Linked DNA regions of Homo sapiens: region 2 is linked to region 1. The links come from fine-mapping of genetic effects on gene expression. A gene starts in region 1. The other region holds a variant in brackets. All regions are shown on one strand. Distances are from middle to middle.

Region 1 (5,370 bases):
AGACTGTCCTTTGAAGCCAGGCATTGACCTTTCTCTAGCTATGAAAGTCCTAGATAGTATTTTTTTTTCCATATAAGGCTGTTTCATTTACATTGAAAGTCTGTTGTTTAGTGTGGCCACCTTCATCAATTATTTTAGCTATATGTTCTGCATAACTTGCTGCAGCTTCTTCATCAACACTTACTGCCTCACCTTACACTTTTACATTACAGAGGTGGCTTCTTCCCTTAAACCTCATGAACTAACCTCTGCCAGTTTCAAACTTTTCTTCTGCAGCTTCCTCACTCTTCACAGAATTGAAGAGAGTTAGTACCTTGCTCCGGATTAGGCTTTCGCTTAAGGGAATGTCATGGATGGTTTGATCTTCTATCCAGACCACTAAAACTTTCTCCCTATCAGCAATAAGGCTGTTTGGCTTATCATTCATGTATTCATTGGAGTAGCATTTTAATTTCAAGAACTCTTCCTCTGCATTCACAACTTGGCTAACTGTCATTCAGCACAAGAGGCCTAGCTTTTGGCCTATCTCAACTTTTGATACGCCTTTCTCACTAAGGATAAACATTTCTTAACTTCACTTAAAGTAAGAGAGATTCAACTGACTGCTCCTTTTGCCTGGACACTGTAGGGTCACTGACTGGCCTAATTTCAATATTGTGTCTCAAGGAATTGAGAGGCCTGAGGAGAGAGACTGGGAACTGCCAGTCAGTGGAGCTGTTAGTACACACCCAACTTTTACCAATTAAGTTCACTGTCTTATATGAGTGCTATTCATGGTAACCCAAAACATTGATCACAGGTCACTATAACAGATGTAACAATGAAAAGGTTTGGGGCTGGGCATGGTGGCTCATGCCTGTAATCCCAGCACTTTGGGAGGCCGAGGCAGGCGGATCACTTGAGGTCAGGCGTTCGAGACCAGCCTGGCCAATATGGTGAAACCCCGTCTCCACTAAAAATACAAAAATTAACTGGGTGTGGTAGTACATGCCTGTAATCCCAGCTACTCCGGAGGCTGAGGCAGGAGAATCACTTGAGCCCAGATGGCAGAGGTTACAGTGAGACCGAGAACACGCCAGTGCACTGCATCCTGGGTGACAGAGTGAGATTCCACCTCAAAAAAAAAAAAAAAAAAAAAGTGTGAAATATTGTGAATTACCCAAACGTGACACAAGAGACACAAAGTGAGCACATGCTGTTGGAAAAATGGCTGGCATTTACAGACTTGCTCGATGAATCCTTGCTATAAACCTTCACCTTGCAAAAAAAAAAAGGCAGTATTTGCAAAACACAATAAAATGAGTTATCTCTTATTCCCTCCATCCTCACCCAGCTACAGGAGGACCACGACTGTTTACTGCTGTATTCCAAGCAGAAAGGTTGGCATACAGGAGACCTCAAAAATACGCTACTTTGATCTTGAGGAGAGTGAAAAATCTTACTCATTTTATGTACAAAGCACAGATGTGCATACATTATATAAAAAGAAATAGTTTACGTATGGCATTAAGATTTCATGAAGATTAGAAAAACAATGTTTACAAAAGGTCCTTACAAAGGTAGTAATTCAAGAAAAGATCAATAAACGATGTGTTAAAGTAAGATTTTTGGAAGCTCAAATTCAGGCAATACAAAAGCCAGCAATATATCTTGCTACTCGAATGCCTCTATTTCACCTCAAACTCACAGATAAAACTGAACCCAATATGTCCTTGTCCATTAAAAAGCAAATCACCAAGAAAGTAACAAAAGATTCCCTTCAATGTCTCTTTTATTGACAGTGGTCCCAAAACTCCTGGTCAATGAATTCAAAACCCAAATCTTGCAGGTAGGACTTAACCTCATCTGCTGCCAAATAGCTGGCTATGTGACCTTGGGCAGACCACTTCACTTTTCTGGACCTCAGTCTCCCCAGTCAGTTGGACAGTCTAAGCCAGGCTCCAGAGCTGAGACCCTACGTCTGGCTCAAGAACTTGGTGCAGAAACAGAACGAAGATTATTAAGTTTGTGAACGTCTATGGGAACTGACAAGTGAAAGACAAAAGCTGAAATCCCTACCAAAACGGCTTGCCCAAGCTCTATCCTTTTCCCTCTTCCCTCGATGGATCAAAGGCGGAAAAGCGGTGTTTACTAGCAACTCTGTTTCGGGTCGTGAGAATCTTCATACACCTGTCTATAGGCGCGCCAGAGCGGTGAAGGGCCCGAGCGGTGCAGGGCTGGGCCGCAAGCCTCACAGTCGCACGTTCCACCAACCACCAGCCGGGGCCCGGAAGCGCGCCCGGAAATCGAGGCCCTACTAAGTTTTAGACTGCGACCTCGGCGCCCCCACGGTCAGGCCCGCACCCGTACTCAGATCCTCCCGACCTACAAAAGGCCCCGCCACGCGGCCCACGCACCCCGGCAAACTCGCAGGCCCCACGATGGCGGGGCGGCGGCGCGAACACACAAAGGAGGCGTCGTCAGCGGGGAACAAAAACCCTGCCCGGGTCTTCCCCCTAACAGCACATCCTGCCCGACTTTCCAAGTGACCTTGGGGGCGTTCCTGCCCCTCCCAGAGTCTCAGTTTCCCTTCCTAGGCTAGGAACTAAGCCCCATGGCCGCGGCCCCCCAGGGTGAGCCGAGACCCAGACGCAGACCTCCTAACTTCTGTTGCCCGCGCCAAGCCGGGCTCGGTGCGCCCGCGCGGACGGCAGTGCGAGCGACCAGAGCTGGCTCGAGGTCCCGGGCTGCAAAGCCTCGGCTGGGTCAAGCCGCGCAGCGCGGCTCCCCCAAGAGGCGCGGGCCGAGGCCTCTGTAGGCCGCGAAGCTGCCTAAACCTCGCATCTGCAAGGCCCTGACTTACCGCTGCTTTCCCGCAAAGCTCGGCCTAACCTGGAGCTAGTTAGGTCCGCAGGCGCCACCGCCGGCGCACTCCGGAGAAGAAGCTCCTTCTTCAGCCGCCCAGGAGAGCTCCTCGAGAAAGATGCCGCCGCCTCAACAGCAACCCACTTCCGCTTCGGAGGCCTCGGCTCCGCCCCCCATCATGTCCCCATTGGCCGCCCGCCTACTCTACTTCCGCGGTCGGCCGGGTAAGGACAAATTTTTTAATCCTATTGGATAAGAAAACCATCTGTTACCACTTTAAAACGCGCCTCTTTCCGCCCCCGCCCACAATCGAGCGCACTAACTCGCACCTTCCGGCAAGAGACGGCGCGGGCGCGCCCCGCCCGCAAGGTTTTTCGGGAGTCACGGTCTGAGGGCGACCCGGGCGACCCGGTCGCCCGTGCCCGGCTGCCACTGACCGCTCCAACGCCGCCAGGGACGACCCGCCAGCTGCCTCCGGAGCCGAGCAGGCCCCGAACCTTCCCATTCCTAGATTTCCAGCCGCACAACAGCCGCGGTGCCCCTGGCTCGACGCAGCTGGCCGGAGGCGCGGAGCTGGTCGTTCGTCCCGCCCGCCGTTCCGCGCCCCTCTCCCGGCTCTTGTTTCCTCGCCTCTTAACGAGGCCTTTGTGAGGAAGGTTGCTGGGCCTTGGGACTCTGACGATCGGCTGGAAACCAGGCCTGGCCCTGTTTCAGCATCCCCGCGTGCCAAGCCCTGGGCCGGCGTGCGGGTCCCTGCCCCTGCGAGGAAGCTGGGACTTTTGCAGGCCTGGGTGGAGACGTGTACATAACAGAGGAAGAGTGTGGAGGATTGGAGGACTCAGGGCAGCACGGCAGAGGTGCATGCAGGTCCCCGGTCGGACTGGAGAATGGGCGGTGGGTTTCTTGAGCTCCAGTCCCTGAGCTCGACTTTGACGTGGGTTTAGCAACCAGGAAAAAAGCCCACCTTGTCCCTGCTGCCTGAGAATACCCAGACCTTAGTCCATGGCCAGCATCTCTGGTCCCTCGGCACCCTCAGGCAACGTGAAGGTCACCCCAAATGCCTTGGGTTACATTGTTTCCTTACAGTGAGTTTGTTTGTTTTAGTGGCGCGATCTCGGCTCACTGCAAGCTCTAACCTCCTGGGTTCACGTGATTCTCCTGCCTCAGCCTCCCGAATAGCTGGGATTACAGGCGCCTGCCACCACGCCCGGCTAATTTTCTTTGTATTTTTAGTAGAGATGGAGTTCCATCATGTTGGCCAGGCTGGTCTCGAGCTCCTGACCTCAGGTGATCCACCCTCCTTGGCCTCCAAAAGTGCTGGGATTACTGGTGTGAGCCACCTCGCCCGGCCACCTTACAGTGAGTTTCTAACCTCGAAAATGGAGTCAAATAACGGAATGACAAGGCAGATAGAAACCAGAGCATTAACGTTTTTGTGTTGCATTTACAAACAATATGTGTTTGCTATTTTTCGTAATTGTAAGGAAATCTGGCATGGTAGAGTATCTGATAGATAAATGTAATTCTCATGTAAAATATCTAAGTATTTGTGTTTTTTGTTTGTTTGTTTGTTTGTTTTGAGACGGAGTCTCGCTCTGTCGCCCAGGCTGGAGTGCAGTGGCGCGATCTCGGCTCACTGCAAGCTCCGCATCCCGGGTTCACGCCATTCTCCTGCCTCAGCCTCCCAAGTAGCTGGGACTACAGGCGCCCGCCACCACGCCTGGCTAATTTTTTTTTTTTTGTATTTTTTAGTAGAGACGGGGTTTCACCGTGTTAGCCAGGATGGTCTTGATCTCCTGACCTCGTGATCCACCCGCCTCGGCCTCCCAAAGTGCTGGGATTACAGGCGTGGGCCACCGCACCCAGTCTTTTTTTTTTTTTTTTTTTTTGAGACGAGGTGTCACTCTGTCAGCCAGGCTGGAGTGCAGTGGCACAATCATGACTCACTCACTGCAGCCTCGACCTCCCCAGGTTTAGATGATCAACCCACCTTGGCCTCCTGAGTAGCTGGGACCACAGGTGTGTGCCACCATGCCTGGCTAATTTTTTTGTATTTTTTTTTTGTAGACACTGGCTTTCGCCATGTTGCCCAGTCTTGTCTTGAAGCCCCGGGCTCAAGTTATCTGCTCACCTCGACCTCCCAAAGTGTTGAGATTACAGGCATGAGCCATCACACCCTGCCCTAAGTATTTGATTTTTGATAGCGACTGTAAGTTGAAAGGTATAACATTTTCCGAAGTTTGTGATTATAATTGGAGCAAAGAGAACTTAAAAGTTTAAAAGAAATGAAGACATTTAATATATCTATGAGAATTATTTAAATATTAATACTTGATAAGGCAGACAACTGAAATGCTAAAAAATAAAATTAGATTCTACGTGTATAAATGCAGTTGAAAATGTTTAAGAGAATTTCAGTTCATAAATGGGGCCGTACATGATTAATCAAAATGGTGGTTAAAAATGATCAGATTTAGGGCGGGCATGGTGGCTCTCACCTGTAATCTTAACACTTTCGGAGGCTGA
Region 2 (5,370 bases), 32 kb before region 1:
ACATGAAAAGGTGTTTGATCCCATTTGTAATAAAAAAGCACAAATTAAAACCACAATGAGACACCACTGGACAAGCATCAGAATGGCTAAAATTAAAAGTGGCCATGAGGATGTGGAGAACCTCAAACACTGGCATGAATGTGAACTGCTCCCTCTTTAGAAAAGTCTGGCATTTATCCAGTAAAAATCAAAGACACTCACACCTCGGGACACAGCAGTGATGCCTTTTCTAGGCTATGCAATGCCAAAAATGAAAGTTCATTTTGAGGGAAACTAATCAAATGAGATGAACAAAGTCTCTCACTGCATCTTACCGCATTTTTCATTTCCCTTCATTTTTCAGGGGCTTTGAATTCCTTCGAAAGTTGGAAGAATGTGCACACCTGTATGCAAAGTTTCCAGTCTTTTTTTCTTTTTTGAAGAAGACAGGGTCTCACTATGTTGCCCAGGCTTGCCTTGAACTCCTGAGTTCAAGTGATCCTCCTTGCTCAGCCTTCCCAGTAGCTGGGACCACAGGCACAAAGTTTAGAGGGTTCCCTGATGTTCTGACGGCTACCTCTGGATCCTGGTATCCAGGGATTCCTATATTACAGGTACAGAGCTACTGGAGCTAAAGCAGTGCACTCAAACTATTCGACAGGTCCTGGCGGAACTGGTAAGGAAGGTTACCCCGCTTCCAGAATGAATACATTTATCCATTTTATACTCTCCTGCAGGTGCAGCCTAGGGTCACCCTGAACACACGATCCATCTACAGATGCCCCTTATCCTCAGTGACTAGCATTAGAGGCCTCCCAAACAGATCTGCTCAGAGGCAGAATTCCAAACTCAAGTATATGTCTCAGTGTAAATTCATAAACTGGCACTTGGACTTATTAAAATCAAAAATAAGTAGAGAATGATTAGCAAGAGCTATCAAGTCCAAAGCAGTTATTTTGTGGCTGACAACACTGAGGACAGTGTGAGATAAATCCACTGATCAAACTGACCAGTAGATCTGAGAGACCAGAACCTAGGACTCCTGCTTCCCAAGCCAGGAGCGTCTCCCTTTTACCTATCAGCTCTCCCTCTGGCCACCCATCCACTTTCCAGGGTAGCTCCCTCAACACCAATATTCCTGGTCCCCGGGTCTCCCAATGACTGCAGATCTTATAAAGGTTAACCAGACAGCCCCAGGTTAATTGGGAGTAGGACTGCCAACATGGAGCCCTAGCCCAGGGAAACAGAAGAAAGGTAGGGAAGTTCAGAGAGGAAGCCCTTTTAGCAAGAGCAGCTTAGTCATCAAAACAAAACAAAGCTGGCCAGTGTGGTGGCTCACACCTGTAATCCTAGTGCTTTGGGAGGCTGAGGTGGGTGACTGCTTGAGCCCAGGAGTTCAAGACCAGCCTGGGCATCACAGTGAGACCCTGTCTCTACAAAAATATTAAAAAATCACCACCACCACCCGACCCAAATTTAGTAGTGTATGGTGGCATGCACCTGTAGTCTCAGCTACTCAGGAGGATAATGTGGGAGAATCACTTAAGCTCAGGGGTTGGAGGCTGCAGTAAGGTGTGATCATGCCACTGCTCTCTAGCCTGGGCAACAGAGTGAGACCCTGTTTCTTTTCTTTTCTTTTTTTTTTTTTTTGAGACAGAGTCTTGCTCTGTCGCCCAGGCTTGAGTGCAGTGGCGCGATCTTGGCTCACTGCAACCTCCGCCTCCTGGGTTCAAGTAATTCTCCTGCCTTAGCCTCCCGAGTAGCTGGGATTACAGGTATGCATCATCACACCTGGCTAATTTTTGTATTTTTTTTTTTTTTTGAGATGGAGTCTCACTCTGTTGCCCGGGCTGGAGTGCAGTGACGTGATCTCGGCTCACTGCAACCTCTGATTCCTGGGTTCAAGCGATTCTCCTGCCTTAGCCTCCTGAATAGCTGGGACTACAGGCGTCCGCATAATTTTTGTATTTTTAGTAGAGACAGGGTTTCACCATGTTGGCCAGGCTGATGTCAAACTCCTGACCTTGTGGTCCGCCCACCTCGGCCTCCCAAAGTGCTGAGATTACAGGCGTGAGCCACCGCGCCCAGCCTGAGACCCTGTTTCTAAAGCAAAAGAAAACACAAGTGTGAAAGGGGAAATGATGTTGGTTTGTCAGCCAACAAAAGCCAATCAATCATTGTCTTCCTGCAGTCAAAATCCTAGCTCTCTCCTCAGGGTCTGGCAGAGAGAAGGCCAAGAAGACTGTGGTGAACACTGAGTATTCAAGAAAAACAAAAAACAAAAAACAAAAAAACTTCTGCAGACACCACTTTCCAGCTTTAATGAGCAACTGGTGAAACCAAGGTGTCAGCTGGGAAAAAGAAAGAGGGGAAAAATCAGTGACTGTGCTGTAGCTGCCAGCTAATATACCAAATTAGTTATCTTTCCAGAACTCCATGCAGGACACAGGGATGATAAGCAAAGTCATATGTGTGTATGTACCTCAGAAAACACGTTAATGAGACCTAAGCAGGGACCACGTACAACTAAACCCACTGCTGCTTATCTCAGATGGTTTTCCATCCCTGTCCTTTTCTTTGCATTGAAGTCTTGAAACTTCTCAGTATAACCCTATTCTGAAGTTCTCAGCACA[A/G]CTAAGAAGCAACACCTATGGGGTGTCCCTATTCAGATACCCAGGCATCAGCCAAACAGGATAACCCCAACACCAGTGAGCCCAGGGCCAAGGCGAAGACTCAGCTACTAGCAGCCCCCACACCCCACAGTCCTCCTCAGCAGCACTTACCACCCCACTGCCAATGCTGCCAAGTGTGCCCCCACCCCGACCTGTGTTCCGAGCACACTGTCAGAAAACACTCAAGTGGCATCTTCCAGAGGCAAACTTGCCCTTAAGATGCTGACCAGATTCCCAGACCTGCATGCACCATGAAACAGGTCTATCAGAAATAGCTTCTCCGTGTGTCCTCTGACCAGACAAGGCCTCCCTCCTGGCAGGCAGGACACGTATACACACGTCCCCTGCAGTCTGTAACCGGTGCCATGAGACAGGGACACAGGCAGCCTCCTGGGCTCCAGCCTCCCTGGCATCAGGACGCAGCAGGCATCAGGTGGCAATGCAGGGAGCCTGCATCCCCTGAGGCCATGCTAAGTAGCAGGCACTTTTGGAACTTGAGAGATTTCCCATGGGCAGTGCTGAGCCAACGTTCCCTTTCCTTTCAGTTGGGAGGGCATACACTCACAGTGACTGGGCACCATTCTAGGTGTCAGGCACTCAAACACGGCATCTGTTGTAAGATGTCTTACACCATGCCCTGCTGACATGAGTGACCTGTCCCCATTTCATGGAAAGTGAATGAGGCTAAGTCACATGCCCAAGGTCACACAGCTGGTGTAAACTGTGGAATCAGGGACTGAAGACAGATGTGGGGGTCTTGAGATTCTCCCCAAACCACTTTTGTGCCCAGGTGTGGCAAGGTCAGGTTACACAGACCTACTCCATAGGCGACAAGGCTATAACAAATGATTTTCCAGAAACATTTTTCATTTTGGGCTCTCGTCACTGAATGCATGAACTTCTTTGTTATTATTATTGTTACTGTTTATTTTCTTTCTAAAAGCTCAATTCCACAAGATGCATGAACTTCTTTAGCATAAGCTGTAACCTTGACTTGGAGTCTGTGACCAAGGCTGTCAGATGCTGGCACTGGCCAGGGACCCATACCCAAGAAACAGCCGACTCTCACACTCCAACACTTACCACAACAGAGTCATTGTGAGTCAGATCAACCACCACAGGCTCTAAAGATTCACAAGTGAGGTCCACAATTTCATCTCCAGCTTCAAAAGAAAGTATTTCAACAAGCATTAAGATTAAGAGGAAAGTAAGGTTGTATCCCTCTACACTTTAGTATGACTGCTAATGTTATAGGCTTACCCCAAACTAAAACAATCCTGAAGTATACACTGCAAAGAGCACCAGGACCAACACCTCCCTCAGGAGGGAAAGCCAGTAACCACCCTTCCAGAATTCTGCTCTGAGTGGGGAGGTATGGTTTTTACAAATGTACCTGGGGGGTTATGTATGTGTGCGCATGTGCATACCTCTATTCCACGGCATCCCACTTCCACACGGCTATGCCTCTGTGCCCCATCTGGGAGAACGCACCATGCATGCCCAGCCCCAGGCCTTTCTCTTTGGGATGGACTAGCCTGAAACCTCTGCTCCTCCCAGCAGGTGAAGCTGACCACTCTCACTTGGCCCAAGGACCAAAAGTCAGGCTTAGCTTAGTAACTTCATCGGTTAATCTAGGGCAAATTCTTTTTTTTTTTTTTTTTTTTTGAGACAGAGTCTCGCTCTGTCGCCAAGGCTGGAGTGCAGTGGTGCGATCTTGGCTCACTGCAACCTCCGCCTCCTGGGTTCAAGCAATTCTCTGTCTCAGCCTCCCGAGTAGTTGGGATTACAGGCGCCTGGCAGCATGCCTGGCTAATTTTGTTTGTATTTTTAGTAGAGATGGGGTTTCACCATCTTGGCCAGGCTGGTCTTGAACTCCTGACCTTGTGATCCACCCACTTCAGTCTTCCAAAGTGTTGGGATTACAGGCGTGAGCCACCGTGCCCGGCCAAGGACAAACTTTTAATTTCCATTTATCTCTCAAGTTTGTCTCCCTAGTTGGATGGAGAATAACAGTGATATATACTGATAGCTAGAACCTCAACATACAAAATGGGTTGCATCTGTTGTGAAGCTTGCCTTTCAGCCCTTAGGGTATACTGTGATGTCTACATGTGCACAGGATAAAGGTGAGAAGGACATGGACCAAACAGTTAACGTACAACTTCCATTTATATAAAGTAAAAAATGACGCACAACCATTTTTATTTCTGATTACTATTAATATTAATATTAAAAAGCACGGAATGGGCCAGGCACAGTGGTTCACACCTGTAATCCCAGCACTTTGGGAGGCTGAGGTGGGCGGATCACCTGAGGTTGAGAGTTCGAGACCAGCCTGACCAACATGGAGAAACTCCGTTTCTACTAAAAATACAAAATTAGCGAGGTGTGGTGGCACATGCCTGTAATCCCAGCTACTCGGGAGGCTGAGGCAGGAGAATTGCTTGAACCCCGGGATGCAAAGATCACGCCACTGCACCCCAGCCTGGGCAACAAGAGCAAAACTCCATCTCAAAAACAAACAAACAACAACAACAACAAAACACTAAATGAAGTTTTTTAAGAAACAGTATTGGTCTAATATTTGGGGAAAGTGTCTTGTAATGCATTTAACTTTTTTTTTTTGAGACAGAGTCTCGCTCTGTCGTCCAGGCAGGAGTGCAGTGGCACGATCTCGGCTCACTGCAACCTCTGCCTCCCAGGTGCAAGTGATTCTCCT

Evidence for each region. PIP is the estimated chance that this variant, and not a neighbour inherited with it, causes the effect.
Region 2: its variant is the best candidate, but not a certain one, in a credible set for the expression of RNF4 in whole blood (TOPMed, PIP 0.89).

Annotation. Positions count from the first base shown.
Region 1 is chr4:2,466,731-2,472,100 of GRCh38, reverse strand. RNF4 (ring finger protein 4) reads right to left here and starts at 2,995. Exons shown (of 8, transcript NM_002938.5): 1 at 2,843-2,995. LOC107986250 (a long non-coding RNA gene) reads left to right here and starts at 3,150. Exons shown (of 2, transcript XR_001741551.3): 1 at 3,150-3,701. RefSeq lists enhancers at 2,353-2,472, 2,517-3,089, 2,773-3,132 and a silencer at 3,283-3,452.
Region 2 is chr4:2,499,103-2,504,472 of GRCh38, reverse strand. RNF4 (ring finger protein 4) reads right to left here. Exons shown (of 8, transcript NM_002938.5): 4 at 3,735-3,814. Among named protein-coding and RNA genes, the nearest start is that of RNF4, 33 kb to the right of the region's middle. The variant A/G (reference allele first, on the strand shown) is at 2,613.